Linked DNA regions of Homo sapiens. The protein of the gene in region 1 purifies or fractionates together with the protein of each later gene. This does not show direct contact. Each region holds a gene or a part of one and is shown on either strand. Other genes may lie near its edges. The genes, in order: CLEC4M, PLXNA1 and NFS1.

Region 1 (4,270 bases):
CATGGTGGCATGCACCTGTAATCCCAGCTGCTCGGGAGGCTGAGGCAGGAGAATCACTTGACCCTGGGAGGTGGAGGTCGCAGTGAGCCAAGATTGCACCACTGCATTCCAGCCTGGGCAACACAGCGAGACTCCGTCTCCAATAAATAAATAAAAATACAAAAATTAGCCAGATGTGGTGGCGCACACCTGTAGTCACAGCTACTCGGGAGGTTGAGGCAGAAGAATCACTTGAACCCAGGAGGCGGAGGTTGCAGGGAGCCCAGATCAGCCACTGCACTCCAGCCTGGGTGACAGAGCGAGACTCTGTCTCAAAAAAAAAAAAAAAAAAAGAAAGAAAGAAAGAAAGAGAAGAAATTTTGACATATGAATTCATCCATGCAGCCACTTCTCAGAAAAAAATATGGAACATTGTCAGCAGAAAATTTCCTTCTACCCCATTCTGGTCAGTTTACACCCACTCCTTCCAGAAAGCCCCCAATTTGAGTCCCATCAAAGGTTAGTTCTTCTGCCTATTCTTGAAATTCATGTAAACTCAAAATCTTACAGAATGTATTCATTCTGTTTGGGTTTCTTAACTCTTGTGAGATTCATCCAAATTGTTGTTTGTATCAGTACTTTGCTTTTTCATTACTGTATAGAATTCCACCCTCTGAATATGCCATGATATTTGTTTTCATTCACCTGCTGGTGGCCACATGGGTTGTTCCAATTTGGGTTGGGATAGTCTAACTAAAGTTACTATAAATCTTTCTATTTTGCCCTTGATGTTATTAGACCCTCTTTGGTTAACTGGGTGGAGTGTGGAGGAAAACTGCCTGGATTCGAATCTCAGCTCCACCATTTACCAGCTGTGTGACCTTGGGCTAGTTTCTTAATCTCGCAGTGCCTCTATTTTCCCCTATCTGTAAACTGGAGGTCACATGATCTACTGCAGGGTAGGAAAGTTAAATGAAGGAGTTTTATAAAGCTGTTGGAAATGTGCCTATCATAGGTATGAAATAAACAACTATCGTTCATCTCCAACTCCCAAAAACAAAGGAAATTCCCATGAATGAGAGCATCCGCAGACCAAAAGAGCAGATCCTGGAGGTCAGAGGGCATGGTGGTTCCAGGAACTAGGCGGTACTGCCTGCCCACCCCTGCCCTACGTAGGGAGGCATAACAAAGTCGCTTTCCATTAGAATGAATTGAATTTTATTAAAAGCATCCCATCGCTCAACCATGTCATGAGTGGAGGAGTCCTTCTCCCTGTCAACCCCAGACCATCCCCCAACACCTCCCTGAAATTCCTGCAAGGTCAGGCCGATCTCAGGCTCTGACTCCTTTCACTAGCCTTTCTGGTGATGTGATCTTACCCAGCTTCCTGTTTGTCTTCCTGAGAGACAGTAGATTTAGAAAGTGAGGATCAGAGGGTGGAAAATAAAAGCTGTGGTCCCCAGGAGTCCTGAACATCTGGGGACAGCGGGAAAACATGAGTGACTCCAAGGAACCAAGGGTGCAGCAGCTGGGCCTCCTGGGTAAGGCTGGGTTGGAACTCTGGGATCCTGGGTAAGGGGAAGGGATGGCCCAGGCTCTGAGCTGATGTCTGTCAATTCAGAAGAAGATCCAACAACCAGTGGCATCAGACTTTTTCCAAGAGACTTTCAATTCCAGCAGATACATGGCCACAAGAGCTCTACAGGTAGGCAAGAGTTAGGGAGCAGATAGTGGAAGACAGAGCCTCCCAGACCCCTGGGTCCTGGGGAGGTAGGTGTTGGGGTCTGGAATCCTGGGTTCTGGGGAAGGAAGGTCTGAGACCTGGGTTCCTGGGTCCTGAAGAGGACGGGGTAGGGATCTGAACTCCTCACACCTGGGGAGGTGGGGGTTGAGGCTTGGGTTCCTGGGGCCTGGGGAGGTGGGAGAGGGGTTCTGGACTCCTGGGACCTACAGAGGTGGGGGTTGGAAGCTGGACACCTGGGTCCATGGGAGGTAGGGACTGGAGCCTGGACTCCTGGAACCAGAGGAGGTGGGAGAAGGGGCCTGGATTCCTGGGTCCTGGGGCAGGTGAGAACTGGGGACTGGAATCCTGGGTCCTGGGGAGGTGGGAGCTGGGACCAGATTACTGGGTCCTGGGGAAGGTGAGAACTGGGGCCTGAATTCGTGGGTCCTGGGGAGGTAGAAGCAGGTATCTGGGTTCCTAGGACCTGGGGAGGTGGGAGCTTGGGCCTGGGTTCCTCCTGGGACCTGGAGATGTGGAGGCTGGGACCTGGATGCCTGAGTCCTGGTGTTGCAGGATAATTTAGGAATCACAGAGATCAAGGGGTTGAGGAGGATTTATTATTATTATTATTATTTAGGTGCACCAGCCCAGTCAGATTAACATCCAAAAAGACTGAGCCCCAAACAAAGAGTCAAGTTACCTTTTAAGCATTTCATGGGGTAGGGGGAGATCTGTGCAGGGGGAAGCATATTACAGAAGCGAGAAACAAAGATAGTTATTCAATTGAGACATGCATTACGTCATTTCTTATTTTTCAAGGAAAAACATGTTTTACAACTTGAGTTTATCTGCCTAGTGACCTTGCAGCTGCACAGCTAGAGAAACAGGGTCTTCACAATGCCTGGGAAAGGGAGAGATAAGGCTCACTAGCCACACACAGAAAAACAGGCAGTTAATTCTTTTTTATTTTATTTATTTAGTTTTTATTTTTATTTATTTATTTATTTTTTTTGAGACAGAGTCTTGCTCTGTCACCCAGGCTGGAATGCAGTGGCGCCATCTCGGCTCACTGCAAGATCTGCCTCCCAGGTTCATGCCATTCTCTTGCCTCACCCTCCCGAGTAGCTGGGACTACAGGCGCCCACCACCACCACGCCCGGCTAATTTTTTGTATTTTTAGTAGAGATAGGGTTTCACTGTGTTAGCCAGGATGGTCTTGATCTCCTGACCTTGTGATCTGCCTGCCTCAGCCTCCCAAAGTGCTGGGATTACAAGTGTGAGCCACCATGCCTGGCCAAAAAGGCAGTTAATTTTTAAAGGATTCCACCTCTTTCTCTTCCTCAGGGGGAATTGGGTTTTCTTACATACAACTGAGTTTTTGCTTACACATTCTTTAATTTCTTTTCATTCCTGTTCCACTGGGGAGGTGGACGCAGGTACCTGGGTTCCTGGGACCTGGGGAGGTGGGGGTTGGGACCTAAACTCCTGGGACTTGGGGAGGGAGAGGCTGGGGATGGGGTTCCTGGGTCCTGGGGAGGTTAGAGCTAGGGCCTGGATTCCCAGGTGTTGGAGTGGAGGGGGCTGGGGCTGGGGTTCCTGGGTCCTGGGGTGCTGAGGGATTAGGCCAGGCTCTCCCTGGGCCAGGCTCAGGTGGGAACACTGGCAGGCTGACGCATGTATCCTCTCTCAGGGTGTCTTGGCCATGGCGCCCTGGTGCTGCAACTCCTCTCCTTCATGCTCTTGGCTGGGGTCCTGGTGGCCATCCTTGTCCAAGGTCAGGGGCAGGTTCTGAGGGTCTGGGGTCCCCAGGCCTGGCCTTTTGGCTATGAACAGAGCCTGGAGTGGCCAGGTCTGGGAGGGAGGTGGGACTGAGAGCCAAGATGTTGTCCCTGGGGGTCTGTAGGGGCCTCTCCCACAGCCCCTCCCCACTCTAGAGCAGGACAGGAGAGGGAGGAGGAGGAGGGGAAGAACCTGGCTCTCCTTGGCCTTCTGTGCTGCCTTCTCCAGGTGTCAGTTTTCCTCATCTTCAAAGGGGATTAACTGAGACCTTGGCTCTCACAAATGATGTCTCTATGGGGCTCAGTTCAGGGCTTGGCACACAGTAGGTGTTTAATAATTGCAGTTCCTTTTCTTCTTGGCCCAGTGTCCAAGGTCCCCAGCTCCCTAAGTCAGGAACAATCCGAGCAAGACGCAATCTACCAGAACCTGACCCAGCTTAAAGCTGCAGTGGGTGAGCTCTCAGAGAAATCCAAGCTGCAGGAGATCTACCAGGAGCTGACCCAGCTGAAGGCTGCAGTGGGTGAGTTGCCAGAGAAATCCAAGCTGCAGGAGATCTACCAGGAGCTGACCCGGCTGAAGGCTGCAGTGGGTGAGTTGCCAGAGAAATCCAAGCTGCAGGAGATCTACCAGGAGCTGACCCGGCTGAAGGCTGCAGTGGGTGAGTTGCCAGAGAAATCCAAGCTGCAGGAGATCTACCAGGAGCTGACCCGGCTGAAGGCTGCAGTGGGTGAGTTGCCAGAGAAATCCAAGCTGCAGGAGATCTACCAGGAGCTGACGGAGCTGAAGGCT
Region 2 (3,644 bases), on another chromosome or scaffold:
GCCTGGAGGCCGCTTAGCTGGGAAGCCTGACGGTGCCATCACCTAACAGTACTCCTACGAGGGGAACGATGTCAGCGACCTGCCAGTGAACCTGTCAGTCGTGTGGAACGGCAACTTTGTCATTGACAACCCACAGAACATCCAGGGTGAGTGGGCGCCCCGGCGGGGTGGGCAGTGGGCGGGCCCGAGCTGACCGCACCCCTCCCCACAGCGCACCTCTACAAGTGCCCGGCCCTGCGCGAGAGCTGCGGCCTCTGCCTCAAGGCCGACCCGCGCTTCGAGTGCGGATGGTGCGTGGCCGAGCGCCGCTGCTCCCTGCGACACCACTGCGCTGCCGACACACCTGCATCGTGGATGCACGCGCGTCACGGCAGCAGTCGCTGCACCGACCCCAAGATCCTCAAGGTAGGGCCCCCAGCCCTGCCCCCACACCCCATGCCCCGCCCTGCACCACCGCACACCCTACGCCCTGTGGGATGCCTGTACCCCAGCCTCTGCCTCCCTCAGCTGTCCCCCGAGACGGGCCCGAGGCAGGGCGGCACGCGGCTCACTATCACAGGCGAGAACCTGGGCCTGCGATTCGAAGACGTGCGTCTGGGCGTGCGCGTGGGCAAGGTGCTGTGCAGCCCTGTGGAGAGCGAGTACATCAGTGCGGAGCAGTGAGTGCAGCCCTGGGTGTGTGCGGGGCGGGACGGGACGGGGCGGGGCTCCTGCAGCCCCTGAGGCCCGCCTGCCCACAGGATCGTCTGTGAGATCGGGGACGCCAGCTCCGTGCGTGCCCATGACGCCCTGGTGGAGGTGTGTGTGCGGGACTGCTCACCACACTACCGCGCCCTGTCACCCAAGCGCTTCACCTTCGTGGTGAGTCTGCTGCCCTCCCTCTCTCCCTATTCTCTGCTGCTCTGAGAGGGTGCCGCTCAGGGCTTCTGTGCCTCTTCAGGGCCCCTTGTCTGGCCATGCTCTGCCACTGCTTTTCCACGGCCTGGGTGCTGCCCCTCCCCTCCTGTGCCTAGGCCAGCTCCAGGGCTCCCTGGCTCACCTTGGGCTGTGCCTGAGAAACCTGGAAGTACTGGCTCTGAAGTGCAGCTCCCGGGCATGCGGGCTCCTAGTCTGGGGAACTGTCTGTGGGGGTAAGCAGGCCAAGTGGGGCCTGTCCCCATGTGGCCCGAGGGGGACTTTCCTGAGAGTTTCAGCAAGTTCCCTCTTCCTGCAGACACCAACCTTCTACCGTGTGAGCCCCTCCCGTGGGCCTCTGTCAGGGGGCACCTGGATTGGCATCGAGGGAAGCCACCTGAACGCAGGCAGTGATGTGGCTGTGTCGGTCGGTGGCCGGCCCTGCTCCTTCTCCTGGTACGGGGTGCAGGTGGGGGTGGGGGCCTGGCTGCCCCTCCTCCTGTTTCAGATGGTTGCATGCCCCTTCTTGTTGCCTGGGCAACGGGGCTATGGAGAGCCTGGCTGGGGTGATCACTGTGAAACCCAGAGGCGGAGGTTACCATGGAAACAGGCTACCTCCAGAGTGGTAGGACTGGGCGGTGATGGGCGTGGGGCCTGCCTTTGTGGGGCGGGGCAACTTGGCTGCCTCTGCCCTGGTTCTTCCCTGTGGGGAAGGGGGGAATCCCTTGGGTACAAAATAAGAAGTATTTTTTAAAAATTTTTAAGAGAGAAAACAGAAATCTTAACAAAAGCCCTGAGGCTTGAAGTGGATAATTTTAGATTAGGGATGATAATGGAATGTCCCTTTAAATATTTTCCTATGGTAATTACCCGTTATCAGACTAATCATTGGTGTCTGCAGCTGAGGGGGCCTGGTGGCTGTGGGGCTCCTGGCAGTGGTGGAAGAACTGAGGGTCCGGACCCAGGTGTGGGCTATGCCTGGCTGCCTGCCCAGTGGGGTGTCCCCGTGACCCCCACCCAGGCCAGCTCATCTAGTCTCCTCACAGCCCCCTGGGATGCGGGGATAGGGCGAGGTATTCCCACTGGGACAGGTGCCGAGAGGGAAGGTGTCTGCCTGGCCCAGGGTAGTAGGAGTGGGTGCTGGGCTCCCAGCACTCGGAGCCCCGGCTGAGTGAGGCTGGCCCTGAGACAGGCAGGGAAGGTCGCGCCAGGGCTTAGTCTCGCCAGCCCTCCCCAGGGACAGAGGGAGGGCAGCATGAGCCTACCTCCCAGCCTGGCGTGCGTGGGACGGGCCTGCTGCCTACTGCCTCTGGGGAGGCAGAGGCCTGGTGGGTGTGGAGCCCTGGCCAGGGTCACCAGGAGTGGGTGTGGGCGACAGGGAGGCTGTGATGAAAGCAGACCTGGAGAGGCGGCAGGCCGGGTCCCAAATGCCAGGCTGGGCAACAGTGGGGGCCTGAAGGGGCTGGGAGCCAGGGCGAGGGTAGGACAGACATGCACAGCCCTGGGAGGGAAAGTAGCGGTGATAGTATGCAGCCACCCAAGGCAGTACCTGTGACAGATGGCGCTGTTCCCACCGTCCCTCAATGCATCTGCATTCCACCTGCCTGGGTTCCACCCGTGTGCTCCTCACTGTCCCACTCGGGCACCTCCAGGAGGAACTCCCGTGAGATCCGGTGCCTGACACCCCCCGGGCAGAGCCCTGGCAGCGCTCCCATCATCATCAACATCAACCGCGCCCAGCTCACCAACCCTGAGGTGAAGTACAACTACACCGAGGACCCCACCATCCTGAGGATCGACCCCGAGTGGAGCATCAACAGGTGGGGCCCAGCAACACCCATTCCCTATCCCCAGCTATTGAGAGCAGCGCTGAGCCAGGAGCTCTTCCACTGGGCACTTGGCGGTGGCCCTCCTGCATGCCGGGTACTATCCTGCCGGGAAGCACCCCTTGCCAAGAGCTTTTACCTGTTTCCTGTCTTTGGGGAAGGCAGGCTTTGCCTGGCTGAGCTGTGGCCCACGTTTCCAGCTCACTGGGCCCCAGCATCATTTGGTGACCCCCCCACCCCTGTCCTGTTCCAGCGGTGGGACCCTCCTGACGGTCACAGGCACCAACCTGGCCACTGTCCGTGAACCCCGAATCCGGGCCAAGTATGGAGGCATTGAGAGGGAGAACGTGAGTCCCTGCCCTCAGCTGCCCACCTCGGTCCAGGCCTTCACCTGGGATGGGGCTCCTGCTAGGAATACCCGTGTCCCTGCCCCTGCCCCTACCCCTGCCCCTTCCCAGCTTATGCCAACCTTGGCTGTGCCTGGAGACCCCTGGGGAGGCACCTGTCCTGCCTGGCGGGTAGAAGGTCTGGCTCTGGGTTGCTGGCTGCACACACCTCTCCTTCAGGCCACATGTCCCTGGTCCACGTCGGGTGGGTGGCCCAGGACCAGCCCTGCTAGTGCCTGGCATCATCTGTGCAGGGAGCAGGCAGCCCCCAGGCCAGGGGCTCTGTCACTGGGAGCTGCCGGGCCACTCGCGGAGGTCCCGCCCAGCATCCCCACCCTGTGTCTCCAGGGCTGCCTGGTGTACAATGACACCACCATGGTATGCCGCGCCCCGTCTGTGGCCAACCCTGTGCGCAGCCCACCAGAGCTGGGGGAGCGGCCGGATGAGCTGGGCTTCGTCATGGACAACGTGCGCTCCCTGCTTGTGCTCAACTCCACCTCCTTCCTCTACTACCCTGACCCCGTACTGGAGCCACTCA
Region 3 (3,644 bases), on another chromosome or scaffold:
TCCTGCCTCATCTTCCTGAGTAGCTGGGATTACAGGAGCCTGCTACCACACCCAGCTAATTTTTGTATTTTTAGTAGAGACGGGGTTTCGCCATGTTGACTAGGCTGGTCTCAAACTTCTGACCTCAGGTGATCCACCTGCCTCAGTCTCCCAAAGTGCTGGGATTACAGGTGTGAACCACTGCTCCTGGCCCATTTTTTTTTCTTTTTTCTGTTTTTTGAGACAGAGTCTTGATCTCACCTAGGCTGGAGTGCAGTAGCCAGATCTCAGCTCACTGCAGCCTTGACCTCCTTGGCTCAGGTGATCCTCCTGAGTAGCTGGGACTACAGATGTGTACCACCACGCCAGGCTAATTTTTTTTTTTTTTTTTTTTTTTTTTTTTTTAGTATAGATGATGTTGCTCAGGCTGGTCTTGAACTCCTGAGCTCAAGCGATCCTCCTGCCTTAGTCTCCCAAAGTGGTGGGATTATAGGCATTAGCCACCACCACATCCAGCCCCCTTTTTTTTTTTTAATTAATTAATTTATTTATTTATTTTGAGATGGAGTCTCACCCTGTCGCCCAGGCTAGAGTGTAGGGGCATGATCTCGGCTCACTGCAACCTCTGCCTCCCAGGTTCAAGCGATTCTCCTGCCTCATCCTCCTGAGTAGCCGGGATTACAGGTGCGTGCCACCACACCTCGCTAATTTTTGTATTTTTATTTTTATTTATTTATTTATTTTTTGAGACAGAGTTTTGCTCTTGTTGCCCAGGCTGAAGTGCAATGGCGTGACCTCGGCTCACTGCAGCCTCCAACTCCTGGGTTCAAGCGATTCTCCTGCCTCAGCCTCCAGAGTATCTGGGATTACAGGCATGTACTACCACGCCTGGCTAATTTTTGTATTTTTTTTAGTAGAGACGGAGTTTTTCCATGTTGGTCAGGCTGGTCTTGAACTCCCGACCTTAGGTGACCCTCCCTTCTCGGCCTCCCAAAGTGTTGGAATTACAGGTGTGAGCCACCGCGCCTGGCCATTTTTGTATTTTTAGTAGAGATGGGGTTCCACCATGTTCGTCAGGCTGGTCTCAAACTCCTGACCTCGTGATCCACCTGCCTGAGCCTCCCAAAGTGGAGGGATTACAGGCATGAGCCACTGCACCTGGCGTTCTTTTTTTTTTTTTTTTTTTTTTTTTTTGAGATGCAGTCTCGCTCTGTTGCCCAGGCTGGAGTGCAATAGCACTCTTGGCTCACTGCAACCTCTGCCTCCTGATTTCAAGTGATTCCCCTCCCTCAGCCTCCTGAGTAGTTGGGATTACAGGTGCGTGCCACCGGGCCTGGCTTATTTTTTAATTTTTAGTAGAGATGGGGTTTCCCCATGTTGGCCAGGCTGGTCTCAAACTCCTGACCTTAGATGATCCACCTGCCTCGGCCTCCCAAAGTGCTCGGATTACAGTCGTGAGGCACTGCACCTGGCCGCTTTTTTTTTTTCTTCAATGAGATAAATGTTTTTTTTAGTTTCTTGTAATAGTTGAAATTCCAGGAATTTTTAAATGTACCTTTATTGTTTCTTGTGATATTAACAGTAATACCTACTCATGACTTGTTTACTGTTATATCACTGGCACCTAGAAAATTACTTGGGATACTGGAGGTGCTAAATATTGGTTAAATGAATGAATCATAAATTCCAATAATATAGAGTAGAACTCTAAACACATTTTCACTGCTAATTTGCTGTATATTTCTCCAGATTTTTAAATACCTACATTAATCTGTATACTATTATTATTTTAATAGATTTTATTTTTTATAGCAGTTTTAGGTTCACAGCAAAATTGAAAGGAAGGTATAGAAATTTCCTATATATGCCCTGCCCCCAGGTATGCACAGCCTTCTGCCATTATTAGCATCCTCCATCAAGTGGTACATTTGTTGCAATTGATGACCTGATATTGATACATCATTATCACCCAAAGTCCATAGCTTATATTAGGATTCACTGGTGTTGTACATTCTATGGGTTTGGACAAATGTGATTTATTCTAGTGAATTATTGAACTTGACCGGGCTTCGGGAAGCCCTGAATTTGTATTTGACTGGGCAGAAGTATGGGTAGCTTGAGACCCCTGGGACTTATGTCTGGTATCTGAACTAGGGGCAGTCTTGTACGATTGAGCCCTTAACCCATGGGGTTTTCACTAAGTCTGGAGAGTTAGCCTCAGAATTGAATTATAGGATACTCAGTTGGTATGAGAGAACTGGTGTTGGAGCATACTGTTCTTGCCCACTTTTCCTTTACAAATGAGATTGAAGTCATTGCTGTCTCTCTGAGTATGTTCTCCTTCCATCTGTCACCACCAATTTCTAGGGGGTGGCCCGATTCTACAGGTCACGGAAAAAGCACTTGATCACCACCCAGACAGAACACAAATGTGTCTTGGACTCCTGCCGTTCACTGGAAGCTGAGGGCTTTCAGGTCACCTACCTCCCAGTGCAGAAGAGTGGGATCATTGACCTAAAGGTAGGAGTGGCTATTGGCAGGAGGAGCAAAAATGGAGGAGCCTGGCTTCAGCTTGTAAATTTCTCTCTTGGGCCCTAGCTGGAGCTTGAAGGAATAGATCTAACAGTTAGGATGAAGTTTAGAGAAATAAGCCTGGCAGAGAACGAGATCATGTTCCCCTTGAGTGTGTACTGTCCTCCTTTTCTCTGGAGGACTTGTTTCTTTTTCTTTTTTTTGAGATGGAGTCTCACTCTTTTGCCCAGGCTAGAGTGCAGTGGCTTGATCTCAGCTCTCTGCAACCTCTGGAGGACTTGTTACTTCTTTTTTTTATTTTGAGACAGAGTTTGGCTCTTATAACTCAGGCTGGAATGCAGTGGCGCGATCTCGGCTCACTGCAACCTCCGCCTCCTGGGTTCTAATGATTCTCCTGCCTCACCCTCCCGAGTAGCTGGGATTACAGACGCATGCCACCAGGCCCAGTTAATTTTTTTTTTTTTTTTTTTTGAGGCAGAGTCTCATTCTGTCACCTAGGCAGGAGTGCAGTGGCACTCCACTGCAACCTCCACCTCCCGGGTTCAAGTGATTCTCCTGCCTCAGCCTCCTGAGTAGCTGGGACTACAGGCACGTGCCACCACACCTGGCTAATTTTTTTTTTTTTTTTTTTTAAAACAGAGTCTCGCTGTATTGCCAGGCTGGAGTGCAGTGGCGCGATCTTGGCTCACTGCAACCTCTGCCTCCCGGGTTCAAGCGACTCCCCTGCCTCGGCCTCCCAAGTAGCTGGGATTACAGGCATGCACCACCACGCCTTGCTAGTGTTTTTTTGTATTTTAGTAGAGACGGGGTTTCACCATGTTAGCCAGGATGGTCTCTATCTCCTGACCTCGTGATCCACCCACTTCGGCCTCCCAAAGTGCTGGGATTACAGGCGTGAGCCACCGTGCCCGGCCACACTTGGCTAATTTTTTATATTTTTAGTAGAGATGGGGTTTCACCATATTGGCCAGGCTGGTCTCGAACTCCTGACCTCGTGATCCACCTGCCTCGGCCTCCCAAAGTGCTGGGATTACAGGCATGAGCCGCCATGCCTGGCTCTAATTTTTGTATTTTTAGTAGAGACAGAGTTTCACCATGTTGGTCAGGCTGGTCTTGACCTTTTGACCTCAGGT

What was found.
Region 2: the proteins of CLEC4M (region 1) and PLXNA1 purify together in Homo sapiens (affinity purification with mass spectrometry; one large-scale study listed by BioGRID and IntAct). This does not show direct contact.
Region 3: the proteins of CLEC4M (region 1) and NFS1 purify together in Homo sapiens (affinity purification with mass spectrometry; one large-scale study listed by BioGRID and IntAct). This does not show direct contact.

The regions. Positions count from the first base shown.
Region 1 is NC_000019.10:7,761,793-7,766,062, forward strand, and holds the start of CLEC4M (C-type lectin domain family 4 member M), read left to right. Parts: upstream 1-1,450; 5' UTR 1,451-1,474; coding exon 1,475-1,520; intron 1,521-1,600; coding exon 1,601-1,684; intron 1,685-3,392; coding exon 3,393-3,476; intron 3,477-3,845; coding exon 3,846-4,270.
Region 2 is NC_000003.12:127,013,971-127,017,614, forward strand, and holds part of PLXNA1 (plexin-A1 precursor), read left to right. Parts: intron 1-49; coding exon 50-146; intron 147-211; coding exon 212-405; intron 406-507; coding exon 508-659; intron 660-740; coding exon 741-861; intron 862-1,213; coding exon 1,214-1,350; intron 1,351-2,546; coding exon 2,547-2,714; intron 2,715-2,973; coding exon 2,974-3,067; intron 3,068-3,454; coding exon 3,455-3,644. UniProt on the Homo sapiens protein: Coreceptor for SEMA3A, SEMA3C, SEMA3F and SEMA6D. Necessary for signaling by class 3 semaphorins and subsequent remodeling of the cytoskeleton. Plays a role in axon guidance, invasive growth and cell migration.
Region 3 is NC_000020.11:35,689,268-35,692,911, reverse strand, and holds part of NFS1 (cysteine desulfurase isoform a precursor), read left to right. Parts: intron 1-541; exon of another isoform or gene 542-663; intron 664-2,346; coding exon 2,347-2,499; intron 2,500-3,644.